2 linked regions of the Homo sapiens genome follow. The protein of the gene in region 1 interacts with the protein of each later gene in a biochemical or structural test. Each region holds a gene or a part of one and is shown on either strand. Other genes may lie near its edges.

Evidence for each region. Proteins that work in one complex are often made in the same cells at the same time.
Region 2: the proteins of RANGAP1 (region 1) and RANBP2 form a complex in vitro, tested with the Homo sapiens proteins (5 studies listed by BioGRID and IntAct, with this or other methods).

The regions. Positions count from the first base shown.
Region 1 is NC_000022.11:41,247,852-41,255,519, reverse strand, and holds part of RANGAP1 (ran GTPase-activating protein 1), read left to right. Parts: intron 1-853; coding exon of another isoform or gene 854-935; exon of another isoform or gene 936-1,025; coding exon 1,026-1,212; intron 1,213-2,469; exon of another isoform or gene 2,470-2,528; coding exon 2,529-2,648; intron 2,649-4,410; coding exon 4,411-4,513; intron 4,514-5,702; coding exon 5,703-5,791; intron 5,792-6,068; coding exon 6,069-6,190; intron 6,191-7,668. UniProt on the Homo sapiens protein: GTPase activator for RAN. Converts cytoplasmic GTP-bound RAN to GDP-bound RAN, which is essential for RAN-mediated nuclear import and export. Mediates dissociation of cargo from nuclear export complexes containing XPO1, RAN and RANBP2 after nuclear export.
Region 2 is NC_000002.12:108,722,482-108,729,481, forward strand, and holds part of RANBP2 (E3 SUMO-protein ligase RanBP2), read left to right. Parts: intron 1-6,650; coding exon 6,651-6,718; intron 6,719-7,000. UniProt on the Homo sapiens protein: E3 SUMO-protein ligase which facilitates SUMO1 and SUMO2 conjugation by UBE2I. Involved in transport factor (Ran-GTP, karyopherin)-mediated protein import via the F-G repeat-containing domain which acts as a docking site for substrates.

The DNA.
Region 1 (7,668 bases):
GAAGGGGCTGCACTCGGGATTGTTCTTAAGACGCTGACTCTAGAAAGGAAGAGACCATGGGGCCTGGGGAGTCTACCTGGAGGTGAAGGTGGGTGGCCGGGGAGTGGCCATCTCCTGGATCCAAGTCCGGTTGGGCCATCAGCATCGGGCTCCCTGTGCCCCTCGCATCTCCAAGTCGGCCTCATTCGTGTGTCAGATACTCAGTCGTGTCTCCTCGGTGCTAGGCCCTGAGCTGAGGCTAGGAACTGGGGACTCCGAGGTGGGCTGAACCTCACAGGTCCCACTGTCCCTGGGAAATGGTCCAGCCTTCCTATGGGGCAAGGACACCCCTACTCTTCTTCCTCCCCCACACCTGTAGCTTCCTGAGGTCATGTGGATGTGGGCGCCCCTGCCCTGGCATCTCAACCTGGGCAGTGTTCCTGCCAAGCCCTGGGCTCTAGGTGTGACAAAGCTGTCTTCGTTTTCTGTCTCTCCATGAAACCTGGGGCTCCTTGAGGACAGGGACAAGATCTGATTTTTTTTTGTTTTTTTTTTTTGTTTTTTTGTGGGGGATGGAGTCTCGCTCTGTTGCCCAGGCTAGAGTGCAGTGGCACAATTTCGGCTCACTGCCAGCTCCGCCTCCAGGGTTCACGCCATTCTCCTGCCTCAGCCTCCTGAGTAGCTGGGACCACAGGCGCCCGCCACCACACCCGGCTAATTTTTTGTATTTTTAGTAGAGACGGGGTTTCACCACGTTAGCCAGGATGGTCTCGATCTCCTGACCTCATGATCCACCCACCTCGGCCTCCCAAAGTGCTGGGATTACAGGCATGAGCCACCGCGCCGGGCCGATCTTATTTTTTTGTGTCCACAGCATGGATTTCCCTGGTGATCCACCTGCCCCTGCCCTGGGAGCAGGTGCTCCCACCCCACCAGGCTCTCTCCCTCCTGGCTGAGGTGAGGTCTCTGGGCTCATGGAGCCAGGCCTTAGAGCCAACCTGGGCTGCTGGGTAGAGAGGATCTGCTTCAGCCAGCTCTTTCTGCAGTGATGACGAGGACGAGGAGGAGGAGGAGGAAGGAGAAGAGGAAGAAGAGGAAGCAGAAGAAGAGGAGGAGGAAGATGAGGAAGAGGAGGAAGAAGAGGAGGAGGAGGAGGAAGAAGAGCCTCAGCAGCGAGGGCAGGGAGAGAAGTCAGCCACGCCCTCACGGAAGATTCTGGACCCTAACACTGGGGTGAGTTTCTATCATCTGCCACAATCAGAGCCCTGGTCCTGAGAACGTGAAATCCCGAGGCACTTTCACAATGGGGTAGGGGGTGTCTCCTTAAGCACAGTAGCCACAAACATTTTTTTTTGATTGCATGATATTGAGTAAAAAAAGGAAAATGGTCCCAGTGTAATGATAGTTACCTATATTTCTTTTTTTTTTTTTTGAGATGGAGTCTCACTCTTGTCACCCAGGCTGGAGTGCAGTGGTGTGATCTCGGCTCACTGCAACCTCTGCCTCCCGGGTTCAAGTGATTCTTATGCCTCAGCCTCCCAAACAGCTGGGATTACAGATGCTTGCCACCACGCCTGGCTAATTTTTGTATCTTTAGTAGAGCCGGGGTTTCGCCATATTGGCCAGGCTGGTCTTGAACTTCTGACCTCAGGTGATCCACCCTCCTCGACCTCCCAAAGTGCTGGGATTACAGGCATTGAGCCACCGGGCCCAGCCATAGTTACCTATATTTCTATTTACCCCAATATAAATGTCTATTTACAGGTAGCAGTGCTGCTGCATTATGTATATTATAAGATATGCATAAGGGTTTCTGAAAGAATAAACAAATAAGCATAAATAGAAATTCTGATTTTTTTTTTCCCCACCCACCAGAGGATTGTCTTGGTGACCCTTAGGAACCACTCCCCCATTCCTGGGATGGTGGCTGGGCCATGACCTGGCTTGGGCACTTGGTGTCCCTTGTCTGGCCCGGGGCTGCATCAGGGCTGCCACACCTCCAGTTCATTCATTTGCATTCCCTGTCAGGTTCCTAAGTAAAGCTCCTGGAGAACTTGGCTCTGGACAAGGACTCCCCATGCTTACGCTGAATTGGGCTGCTTCTCTGGTTTATGGAATCAATTAAACAAATGGCTAGGTTCGCCTCAATTCAGTTTTTCCTCTGGGCACCTCTGGTGCTAGCAGGGCTTACCCAGGCTGGACTGTAGTTCTACGGGGACCCACTTTAGCCCCCATGTGCCTCCGTAGTCATTTCTGGGGCACTGCATGTCATGACGAGGATCCACTTGGCCGTAGCAGGTTTTTTGAGTCCCAGGGAGGTAGCTTCCCCCTCACCCCAAAGGCTCCTGGACCAAGAGCCATCCAGGGCCAGCATCTCTGGGTGATATTGATAGATGGGAAATGCAGCTGAGTGGGAGGAAGAATTCTAGACTTTGAGCCTAGATGGGCTGGAGTGAAGGGTGGATGTGCTGGGTGTGGGGATGGGCACAGCTGTGTCGGGGAGTCTGGGGTCCGGAATTCTCCAGAGCCTCTGTGCCCCTACTTCCCAGGAGCCAGCTCCCGTGCTGTCCTCCCCACCTCCTGCAGACGTCTCCACCTTCCTGGCTTTTCCCTCTCCAGAGAAGCTGCTGCGCCTAGGGCCCAAGAGCTCCGTGCTGATAGCCCAGCAGGTAATAACCACCCCTCGACCCCCACGCTGTACGTGCTGTGGCTTCTGGAGCTGTTAGAGAAAAGGGACGAACAGCTCAGAGACCTGGGGGTGCGACGCTGTCAGCTGGGGGCAGGGAGGCTTGGCCTGCCACTGTTACAACACGCGCAAATGTCCAGGGTATTTATAAGCCTCCAGGGGTTGCAAATGTTCCCTCCCCACTCAGCCTACAGAAAGTACAGCCCGCCAGTTCCCATGCTGACTGGGGTTAGGGAATTTCCTTAAGAGCCTTGCATGTGCCCACCCCCTCCTTGGCTTCTCTCTGCGTGTTCCGTCAGCCCAGCTGCTTCGAGAACAACTCTGTTGCCCAGGGCTCCTTTGGAAGTGACGTGCCTATTGCAGGATGGGTGCCCTCACTCCAGCCTCACTTGTTGGTTGGCTCATTCATTCATTCATAGATGATCTTCGGGGCATCCATTTTCTGCCAGGCACTGCATTTGGGCATGATTTTATTTAACCCTCTTGGCAACATGAAATGTAGACTCTGCTGCCCTTACTTTATTTTATTATTTATTTATTTATTTATTTTTTTGAGATGGAGTCTCACTCTGTCGCCCAGGCTGGAGTGCAGTGGCACGATCTCGGCTCACTGCAGACTCTGCCTCCTGGGTTCAAGCAATTCTCCTGCCTCAGCCTCCCGCGCCCAGCTAATTTTTGTATTTTTTAGTAGAGACGAGGTTTCACCACGTTGGCCAGGCTGGTCTCAAACTCCTGACCTCATGATCCACCCACCTCGGCCTCCCAAAGTGCTAGGGTTACAGGCATGAGCCACCGTGCCCGGCCAGCCCTTATTTTGTAGATAAGAAAGCGGAGGCTCGGAGGTTACAGAGAAATAAAATGGGCCCACTCTCAGAGTTGGCTTAACATTTCGGCCAATTGCTTTGTTAGGTTTTGCCTGTATTCTTTGTTTCTTTTAACATGATAAATCAGATGTTGTAAGCCTTTCTGTGGCCTATCACTTTGGTGTAGCACCATTCATCACTTTCTTGTGCCCATAAAACTCTTCTCAGGATTTTTATTGCAATGTGTGGATGTAGCACTTAAAAGCCAGGCACTGTTTCTGACGTTTTTTCCACTTTTCCCTGTTGTGAGGTTGAGGTAAACGTTTCTGCATGTGAGTATTGTCTACATGCTAGATTATTTCTTCAAGTTCAATTACAAGATGGGGACCACTGGATCCCTGAAATGATTTTTTTTTTTTTTTTTCTGAGACAATGTTTTGCTTTGTGACTCCGGCTGGAGTGCAGTGGTGCAATCATGGCTCAGTGCAACCTCGACCTCCTGGGCTCAAGCAGTCCTCCTGCCTCAGCCTCCCAAGTAGCTGAGACTATAGGCACACACCACCAACCTTGGCTAATTTTTTTCCTTTTTGTTGACATGGGGTCTTGCTATGTTGCCTAGGCTGGTCTCAGACTTTTCGCCTCAAGCCATCCTCCCACCTCAGCCTCCCAAAGTGCTGGGGTTACAGGCATGAGCCGCCACACCCGGCTGGGATGATTTTTCATCCTTGTTCATTCACTCATTCATTCCCTCTCTATGCTGCATATGTGCTTGCTGCAGGCCAAATCCAAGCCAGACTCTGAAGGGACAGCATGGGGTAAGGCAGGACCTGTTCTTGCCCGCCAGGGGCCTTTGTACTGCCCAGGCCTCTCCTAGCTAGCGTCAGAGCCCAGGTACCTCTCCACCACGTGCCACAGGCCAACCATTGTCTCTTTTGTCCTCAGACTGACACGTCTGACCCCGAGAAGGTGGTCTCTGCCTTCCTAAAGGTGTCATCTGTGTTCAAGGACGAAGCTACTGTGAGGATGGCAGTGCAGGATGCAGTAGGTAATGTGGGCTGGGTGAGACCTGGGTGCCCTCTGTCCCTTGATGCTCGTGGGCCCCAGGTATCCTTCGTGGTTGCCGTAACTCGTCAGCCCCAGCGCTCTCATGGGAACTGCTCTTTGGCCACCTGAGTTTTTCCTCCGTCAGGGTCCTGCCGTGGAGCCAGCTGGCTGCTCTTCTCCCTGTTTTTCACCACTGAGAAACTGAGGCCTTTCCCAAATCCACACAGCCATGTACAGTTAGAACCCATAGCCCGCTCTAGGAAGTCCAGATAGTCACATCTGCAAGCCCAATGGACGCAGGTCTATCGGGAGGAGGGATGGTGAGAGCCAAGCCCTTGTCCACACCTTGGAGCTTCTGTGCTCACGTCCACTCTACCTGGAGGTTCCTTGCACAGAGGACACCTTTCCCCATAACATTATGGGGGCTTCCTTGGAGCACCAGCCCATATCCCTCCAGCCCTATCACAACCCTCTCCCCACCCTGTCTGTTTCCTCCATTCCAGCACCTGTCACCTTCCACCCTGTTTCCATGTGCTTGACTGAGCCTCCACATCTAACGAAACCTGAGCCAGTTCCGGTTAGGCAGAGGGGAGGAAGGGCCCTGAGGCGAGGGGGACGGTTCCTGGAAAAGATAGAAAGGGGTGGAAGGACATGTGGTGCCTCTTCCCGGCGTGGCGTCGAAGCGGGGAGGGCGGCTCAGTGGGAAATGAGGCTCGGAAGGAGGTGGGGGCCAGACACAAGCCTGCTCCCTGAGGGCCCGCCTGTGGGCATTTTTGGGAACAAGTTGCCCTAGTTCTGTTTCCCAGGAAGCCTAGCACAGTCCCTGCACATCCCCTCACCCTGCCAAAATAACCTGAATCCTCCCCAGTGGTAGCCTGCCTCAGGAAATCTCCATTCCCACGGTGTGAGGTGGGCACAGTGGGTGTCATCCCCATGCCCATTTTATACCTGAGGCCAGGATGGGCAAGGGCCAGAGTGTCACAGCTGGCAGATGGACTGAGCCCATCCCCTGATGCCAACTGCCACTCCCTCTGGTTCCTGTGTCTCTGCCGTCCCTCTCGTGTTCGCCTCTTCGTCAGGGCGAGGAGGCAGGCGAGCCTGTGTCTGCGCGGTGTTGGGGGAACCCTGGGTGCCTTGGCCCAGCCCTCTGCCATAGCCAGCAGCCTGCCCCTGCTGCTTCTGCCCTACAGATGCCCTGATGCAGAAGGCTTTCAACTCCTCGTCCTTCAACTCCAACACCTTCCTCACCAGGCTGCTCGTGCACATGGGTCTGCTCAAGGTGAGGCCGGAAGGAACAGCAGGCCCGGGAGGGAGGTGGGTGGGGTCTGCACAGAAGCTGCCCCAGCCATGCCCGCCAACCTCCCTCACCTCGAGTCCTGAGCCGGCTCGCCCACGGGGCCCCGAGGCCTGGGTCTGCCCCAGCAGCCTTGGTCTTCACGATGAGATTCCGGCTAGACTCAGTTGTGGGCACTATCAGCAGAGTCTGGATGGTGGAGTCCAGGGGCCCCCCCAGGTGACTTTGAAGCTCACCCCGCTTTTCGCTGTGTTCCTCTCAGAGTGAAGACAAGGTCAAGGCCATTGCCAACCTGTACGGCCCCCTGATGGCGCTGAACCACATGGTGCAGCAGGACTATTTCCCCAAGGCCCTTGCACCCCTGCTGCTGGCGTTCGTGACCAAGTGAGTGTGGCCTTGTCCTTCTGCCGGTGCCTGCCCTCTCGGGCTTCTCTGGCCAGGTCTGAAGGCGCCCGGTTCCGGGAGGCCCAGCCCCAGCCCAGCCAGCCTGCTGGCCCCACTCAGGTGCATGAGAGGCCCTCATGCCTCCTGGGCTCTCAGCATCTGCATTGGAGTCTCACCACCCTTGGGAGGCCCACTCCCCTCTGCCCAGCTGAGGACAGTGGGGCTCAGGGACAGTGAGAGAGGAGACATGCGGCGCCCCCATTGTGCAGATGAGGAGCACTGGGTTGGTTAAGGAGTTTCCCTTGGTCACACGCTAGCAAGAGGCTGGGCCAGTGTCCAGACCCATGTCTGCTGAGCGAGGTGCTGCGGTTGGTGACATCTCCGGAGTGGCTTTTTGTCCACATTCACAGCAGCGCAGGCCAAAGGGGCCTGGTCACACCAGGCTCTGCAGCCCCGGGCCCTCTCCTGGGGACACACATTGCCACGGGAGCTGCCAAATGCCCAGCAATGTGTGAACCTTGGCCTTGTTCTGGAGGGTCCTGGGGTGTCCCGGGGCATTGATGGGGTGATGGGCACAGTCAAGTAAGAGAGGCAAGGCCCCACCAGGGAGGGGTCGGGAGGCTTGCCCTCTGAAGGCCCTGTGTGGCCCCTGGCCAACCTGTGGCCTTCATCAGGCCTCAGTCTCCCCATTTGTCCAACCGGGGGGTTAGGTGAGATTGTCTCCAAGCGCCCTGACCAGCCACACTTCCAGTCAGTCGGCGCCATCCGGGGACATGGGGCAGGCAGAGGAGCAAGGAAGTCCCTTTGCTGGGGGAGCCCAGAGCCCACCAGCTGAGGCAGGATACTTGGTGCATGTGGGGAGGCGGGGCTGGCGGAGCGTGAGCGGCCCCCGCTGGCCTCCAGCACCCAGCTGGTGCCGCGGCAGCCCTGTCCACTCCAGTGTCTGCATGGCGCCGCCTCCTTAGCCAGGCCTTACCTTCTGGCCGCATTTCCCCCACACCAGACCACCCCTTGGGCTGCAGCTGGACTGGCCTTGGTGAATGGCAGATCTCACTGTTCCCCTCCTCTGCCAGGTGCTAGGTAGAGCCTCACTGTGAATCTCATGGCTGGCCACAGCCTCACCCCGACCCCACCCCACCCCACCCCAGCACAGTGTGCTCTCCCTGAGCCCCTTTCCATAGCAGTGCTGTTGCTGCAGTGCCGAGCTTTGCCCATGCTGTCCAGAGCTTGTTTGGCCAGTGGCCCCAGCCCCCGTCTGCGCCTGAGCCCTTTGTGTCCTTCCTGCCCCCTGGTCAGAGTAGTTCCCTCTGTATCCCTGGCAGCCCCTGTGCTATCCTAAGCCTGGGCATGTGCCTCTTGCCCTTGTTGGTCAGAGCAAAATGCCTTTTCCCAGCTTGTTGCCCAACCTCCAGCACAGGCCTCAGTCTGCCCCCTGGGTCTTGTCCAAGGTGACTGATTAACTATGTAGTGACATGCAC
Region 2 (7,000 bases), on another chromosome or scaffold:
GAGGCTGGCCATCTGTGAACTGCCCATGCTTTCTAGAATGTCGGAGTTTTGGAGTGTGATGATGCGTCTGTATATCATATCTTTCTAGTCTTTCATTGTGCTTTCATTTGTTAGTCTTCTCTTGTTTTGCCATTTTTCTACTCCCTCACATGTGCTTTTGCCCTTAAAAATATTCTTCGTCTGTAATCTGAGCACTTTGGGAGGCCGAGAGACCAGCCTGACCAATATGGTGAAAATCCGTCTCTATTAAAAATACAAAAATGAGCCGGGCGTGGTGGCAGCGCCTGTAGTCCCACCTACTCGGTAGGCTGAGACAGGAGAATTGCTTGAACCCTGGAGGCAGAGGTTGTGGTGAGCAGAGATTGCACCACTGCACTCCAGCCTGTGTGACAGAGCGAGACTCTGTCTCCAAAAAAGAAAAAAAGAAAAAAAAATATAATTCTTTCTCTAGTTTTTCTTTTTCCAGATGGCTTCTGTTTAGTTTTTCTATGTTCTGTCAAGTTGATTTCTTATTCTGCAGCTGATTCCTACTTCTCAAAGTCTACTTGACAGCTCTTATTTTTATTTATTTGTTTTTTAGAATAGGGTCTTGCTGTGTTGCCCAGGCTGCCATCAAATTTTTGGGCGTAAATGATCCACCTACCTCTGTTTCCTGAGTACTTAGGACTACAGGCAGGCACCTTTGACAGCTGTTAGTTGTTTTTTCTGCCCTTTACAGCTATACTTCATACTTCTGAGTAACACACATATATACTTTTGTTATTTTTAATTTCCTTTCTCCCATTTTAGACATTTTCTTTTCTTTTTTTTTTTTTTGAGACGGAGACTCGCTCTATCGTCCAGGCTGGAGTGCAGTGGCGCGATCTCGGCTCACTGCAAACTCTGCCTCCCGGGTTCACACCATTCTCCTGCCCCAGCCTGTAGCTGGGACTACAGGCACCCGCCACCACACCCGGCTAATTTTTTAGTATTTTTAGTAGAGACGGGGTTTCACCGTGTTAGCCAGGATAGTCTCGATCTCCTGACCTCATGATCCGCCCGCCTCAGCCTCCCAAAGTGCCGGGGTTACAGGCGTGAGCCACCGCGCCGGGCCCCATTTTAGACATTCTGTACTGGTTATTATGCTCCTCCAAAACTGTCCTCAGACACTTTGGTTTGCCCCTCATTCTTTCAGTACTGTTATTGCAGTTTTTGTTTAAATGAATATTTAACATTTATATAAATATAAGGTAAATATTTTTGCATTTGAATTGCCCTTGTTGTGCGGTTTTGTTTTTCCTGGACTGAATAATTGCTTTATTTTTTGGTTTGCTTGTATGTTGTGTTACTACTTGCTTACTTAAACTCAGCAATTTACACCCTCAAATGTGGTCAAACTGGTCACATAATCCCATCAATTGCAGCTTAAAACATTGATTGATTGATTGATTGATTGATTGTCTGTCTACCTGGAATACCCTTACTAACTGACTTCTCCAACCAGGATTGGTTTTTCTTCCTCTTTGCTACACAGCTGTGCTCTTGGGACTTCCCTTTATCATCAGTTTGAGAATTCCTTTCATCTTTTTTCTGAGTTAGACCCTTTGTTTCTTGTATCTCATGTCCTCTTCATTTACTTTCTTTGTTTTGGTGTAGCATAGTCTCACTTGCTTTGAGGAAAAGTAGATGAGAGGTTTTTTTGTTTGTTTGTTTTTGTTTTGGGACAGAGTCTTGCTCTGTTGCCCAGGCTGGAGTGCAGTGGCATGGTCTCAGCTCACTGCAACTTCCGCCTCCCGGGTTCAAGCGATTCTCCTGCCTCAGCCTCCTGAGTAGTGGGATTACAGGTGTGTGCCACCATGCCCGGCTAATTTTTTCTATTTTTAGTAGAGATGGGATTTCACCATGTTGGTCAGGCTGGTCTTGAAACTAATGGTATGTCTTTAAAATGTCTTTACTTAATTTAGTTGATCATTTGGTTATCGAATTCTGAGTTTGAAATAATTTTTTTTTCGCAATTTTGAAAGCATTGCTCCATTTTCTAGAAGTTCTGTTGTTAGGAGTCCGATGAGATTCTTGTTCTTGGTAACTTAAAGGTTTTCTGGAAGTGTCCTTTCAATTGGGAAACTCATTTCTTTCAGTTCTGTAGCATTTCTTGTATTATTTCTTTGACCATTTCTTACCCTTTTTTTAATGACGTTTACCTGAAAGCTGGAGTTTCTCTAATTTTTCTCTTATTCTCCTCTTTTGTTTGTTCTGCCTTTTGAGAGATTTCCTTACCCTTATGTTCCAGGGGAAGAAGATTGGGGAACTCATGGTTCAGTATCTAGACTTTTCCTCATTGTCCTGTATAATCGCGGCCTTCACCCTTGTTGGGACTCCACAGATTTGGAGCTGATCAGATGGGTTTGTTGAGAACAGCTGATCAGATGGGTTTTTGGAGGATTTTAGGGGGAGGGAGATTCATTTGACTGTGCAAGATGGGCGACAGAGTGAGACTCCATCTGAATTAAAAAAAAAATTTAGAACTGCATAGTGAAAAAGTAGGCCACAAATATTAAGTTTTGGACAATTACAATTACATCTCTATCTTACTGTGCAAGATAGAGATGATGTGGCATCTCTTAGGGTCTTACTGTTCCTGTTTTCAGCCCTGCATCAGTTCTTGATATTTGGCAGCTTAAGTGAATTCAGGTATTTGCTTATAGTGACATCTGCTGTCATGTAAAGAAGTACTGCTTGCATCAGATATTGTCCTGTTTACATAACATGGGCTGTGCTCCTTCCTAGCTGTGTATCTTTAAACAAGGCATTTACCTGCTTGAGCTTCAGTTCCCTTGTAAAGTGAGCAGGTTAGAGGCAAAAGATCATATAGAAGAATAATTTGTAAAGTTGTTTAATTATCTTAAGATTGTCTACTTTAATAACATAGTTGGAAGCAAAGAAGGTAATGGAATTATTTTTCTATTATGTTTTGGCATTGTACCTTGAATCTATTTCTTCATTTTGAAAAGGGGGAACTGGCTGGGCTCAATGGCTGACGCCTGTAATCCCAGCACTTTGGGAGGTGGAGGAAGTCAGATCACAAGGTCAAGAGATCGAGACCATCTTGGCCAACATGGTGAAACCCCATCTCTACTAAAAATACAAAAATTAGCTGGGCATGGTGGCGTGCGCCTGTAGTCCCAGCTTGTACCCGGGAGGCAGAGGTTGCAGTGAGCTGAGATCGAGCCACTGCACTGCAGCCTGGCGACAGAGCAAGACTCCATCTCAAAAAAAAAAAGGAAGGGGGGAACAAGCCTTGTTCCTTTACGTGCTGTCCTGACTGCTGTGTATTATTTTTGTTAAGATTGCTGTAGTTCTTTTTTTTTTTGAGACGGAGGCTTGCTCTGTCGCCAGTGCTGGGATTGCAGGTGTTAGCCTGGCATTGAGCAACGTTTTGTAATTTAAGCATACAAGTCTCTCACCTCCTTGTTTACATTTATTCCCAGGCATTTTTTTCTTTTAGATGCGATTGTAAATGGAATTGCTTTCTTAATTTCCTTTTCTGATTGTTCGTTGCTGGTACAGTAGTCCCTTCTTATCCACAGTATTGCCTTACGTGGTTTTACTTAGCTGTGTCACCCGTGGTCCAAAAATATTGAATGGAAGATTATATAAATAAACATTTCATGAGTTTTAAATTGCAAACGGTTCTGAATAACATGGTAAAAATCTCACGGCCTCCTGCTCCGTCCTACCTAGGACACAAGTCATCCCTTTGTCCGACATATTCATGCTGTATGTGCTCGCCACCCGCTAGTTACATACTAGTCATCTCAGTTATCAGATCAGTTGTTGGAGTATTGCAGTGCTTGTGTTCAAGTAACCTTTATTTTATTTAAAATGGCACCAAAGAGCAAGAGTAGCGATGCTGGCAGTTCACATATGCAGAGAGAAGCCATATAGTGCTTCCTTTAAGTGAAGAGGTGAGTTTTTTTGTTTTTTTTTTTTTTTGGCTTAAACAACAGAAATTTATTTTCTCATGGTTCTGGAGGCTAGAAGCGGCAGATCAGGGTGCTGCTGCTTTGGTTCCTGATGAGGGCTTTCTTCCTGGCTTATAGGTTGGCTGGCATCTTGTCCTCACATGGCAGAGGGAGAGTACTGTAGTCTCACCTTGCTTTTTATTATTATTATTTTTTTAATTTATTTTTTTATTGATAATTCTTGGGTGTTTCTCACAGAGGGGGATTTGGCAGGGTCATGGGACAATAGTGGAGGGAAGGTCAGCAGATAAACAAGTGAACAAAGGTCTCTGGTTTTCCTAGGCAGAGGACCCTGCAGCCTTCCGCAGTGTTTGTGTCCCTGATTACTTGAGATTAGGGAGTGGTGATGACTCTTAACGAGCATGCTGCCTTCAAGCATCTGTTTAACAAAGCACATCTTGCACCGCCCTTAATCCATTTAACCCTGGGTGGACACAGCACATGTTTCAGAGAGCACAGGGTTGGGGGTAAGGTCACAGATCAACAAGATCCCAAGGCAGAAGAATTTTTCTTAGTGCAGAACAAAATGAAAAGTCTCCCATGTCTACTTCTTTCTACACAGACACGGCAACCATCCGATTTCTCAATCTTTTCCCCACCTTTCCCGCCTTTCTATTCCACAAAACCGCCATTGTCATCATGGCCCGTTCTCAATGAGCTGTTGAGTACACCTCCCAGACGGGGTGGTGGCCGGGCAGAGGGGCTCCTCACTTCCCAGTAGGGGCGGCCGGGCAGAGGCGCCCCTCAGAAGAGGTGAGTTTTTGACTTAGGAAAGAAAAAAGATCATATACTGGAGTTGCTAAGATCTATGGTAAGAACAAATCTTTTGTCCATGAAATTGTGAAGAAGGAAAAAGAAATTTGTGCTAGTTTTGTTGTGACACCCCAAACTGCAAAAGTTACAGCCATAGTGTGTGATAAGTGCTTAGTTGAGATGGACAAGACATTAAATTTGTGGGTGGAGGACACAAACAGGAAACATGTTTCGATTGACGGCAACCTGGTTTGATACTATTCATCGTTTTGGACATTCACTGGGGTCTTGGAATTTCAAAAATAAGATGTTTGAGTAGCTGTATACTCTTTATCACATGGATGGAACATACTCTGGTTGTATCAGCATTTTTTTTTTTTTTTTTTTTGAGATGGAATCATTCTGTTGCCCACGCTGGAGTGCAGTGGTGCGATCTTGGCCCACTGCAGCCTCTGCCTCCCGGATTCAAGCGATTCTTTGCCTCAGCCTCCCAAGCAGTGGGGATTACAGGGGTGTGCCACCATGCCCAGCTAATTTTTGTATTTTTAGTAGAAAGGAGGTTTCTGCATGTTGGCCAGGCTGGTCTCGAACTCTTGGCTTCAGGTGATCCGCCCGCCTCGGTCTCCGAAAGTGCTGGGATTACAGGTGTGAGCCACCGCACCCAGCCTGGTGTGCATCAGCATTTTGGACTTTGGAGTTTATGTAACCAAGGAGCCAGGCTGTGGACCTCGTTTATTACTTGAAGAATTCAATATTTATTTCTGCCTTTTTGACTCCTTGACTGTAAAATACTGATCTGATCTGTAGAGAGAACAGTACATGGACCAGGGAATCCTCAGTGCCTTAATAGATCCTAAGTACTTACTTATTCTTTCCCATAGAGGCTTACACATGGTAGGAAAAGAGATTTCTGGAATACCTTTCCTCCCCAAAGAAAGCTGGTTTCTTTTGTTTGTTAAGTGAGAGAGTGGTACCACAGGGTTTCCAAGATTTCCAAGGCTGATGAAAATTCTTCTGTTGTCTGCTTGTCTTACTTTCTTGAATTTATTTTTTGTATGTTATGTATTTATTATTTAGAGAGAGGATCTCCCTGTGTCACCCACGCTGGAGTGCAGTGTCACAGTCATAACTCACGGCAGTGTCAACCTCCTGGGCTCAAGTGATTCTCCTTCCTTGGCCTCCTGAGTAGCTAGGAACACAGGCATGCTCCACTATGCCTGGCTATTTTTTTCTCCCTGGAGACAGGATCTTGTTGTGTTGCACAGGCTGGTTTCAAACTCTTGGCCTCAAAGCTAGCCTCCCACCTTGGTCTCTGAAAGTGCTAGAATTAAAGGTGTGACCAACTGCACCCAGCTTATTTATGATGATGATGATGATGATGATGATGATGATGATGATGATGATGTTTGGGAGATGGAGTCTCGCTCTGTCGCCCAGGCTGGAGTGCAATGGCACGATCTCAGCTCACTGCAACCTCTGGCTCACTGCAACCTCCACCTCCTGGGTTCAACTGATTCTCGTGCCTTAGCCTCCCGAGTAGCTGGGGTTACAGGCACCCACCATCATGCCTGGCTAATTTTTGTATTTTTGTCAAGACGGGGTTTCACCATGTTAGCCAGGCTGGTCTCAAACTCCTGACCTCAGGTGATCCGCCCACTTCGGCCTCCCAAAGTGCTGGGATTACAGGCATGAGCCGCTGCACCCAGCTCTATTTTTTGTTTTGTGATAGGAAATTATAAAACATGGAATTATGCATTTGTCAGCCTTTAAAAAAACTTTTAAGTGAATGAAAGTGGCGTATTTGAACATCAACTTAGGACAGATTTTTACTACTTTTGAAAAAATGTTGGAAAATATTTCTGTATGAAAAGTAAAACAACTTTTAATTTTTTTTAGAAGTCAATGAAAGGATTCTATTTTGCAAAGCTGTATTATGAAGCTAAAGAATATGATCTTGCTAAAAAGTAAGTACAAACTGTAACATGTATTTTTTTTTTAAAATCAATGCCTTTTCTCATTTTCTTCTTTGAAATAGGTAAAAATATGTTCTTAGTAGTTCTTCCTAAGTGTATTCTGGAATAAGGGATTTATCACTCAGACTGATGCTAAGGACCAGCCTAGATTCCATTGAGATTGAAACCGTAATTAGTGTTTTCTGCATGCTGCTGCTTTATACCAAGGGCAAGAAATTGTTTGGCTTCAAATACTTTTTCTAAAAATTGTCTTCTGTTGGAGTAAAAGAGGAC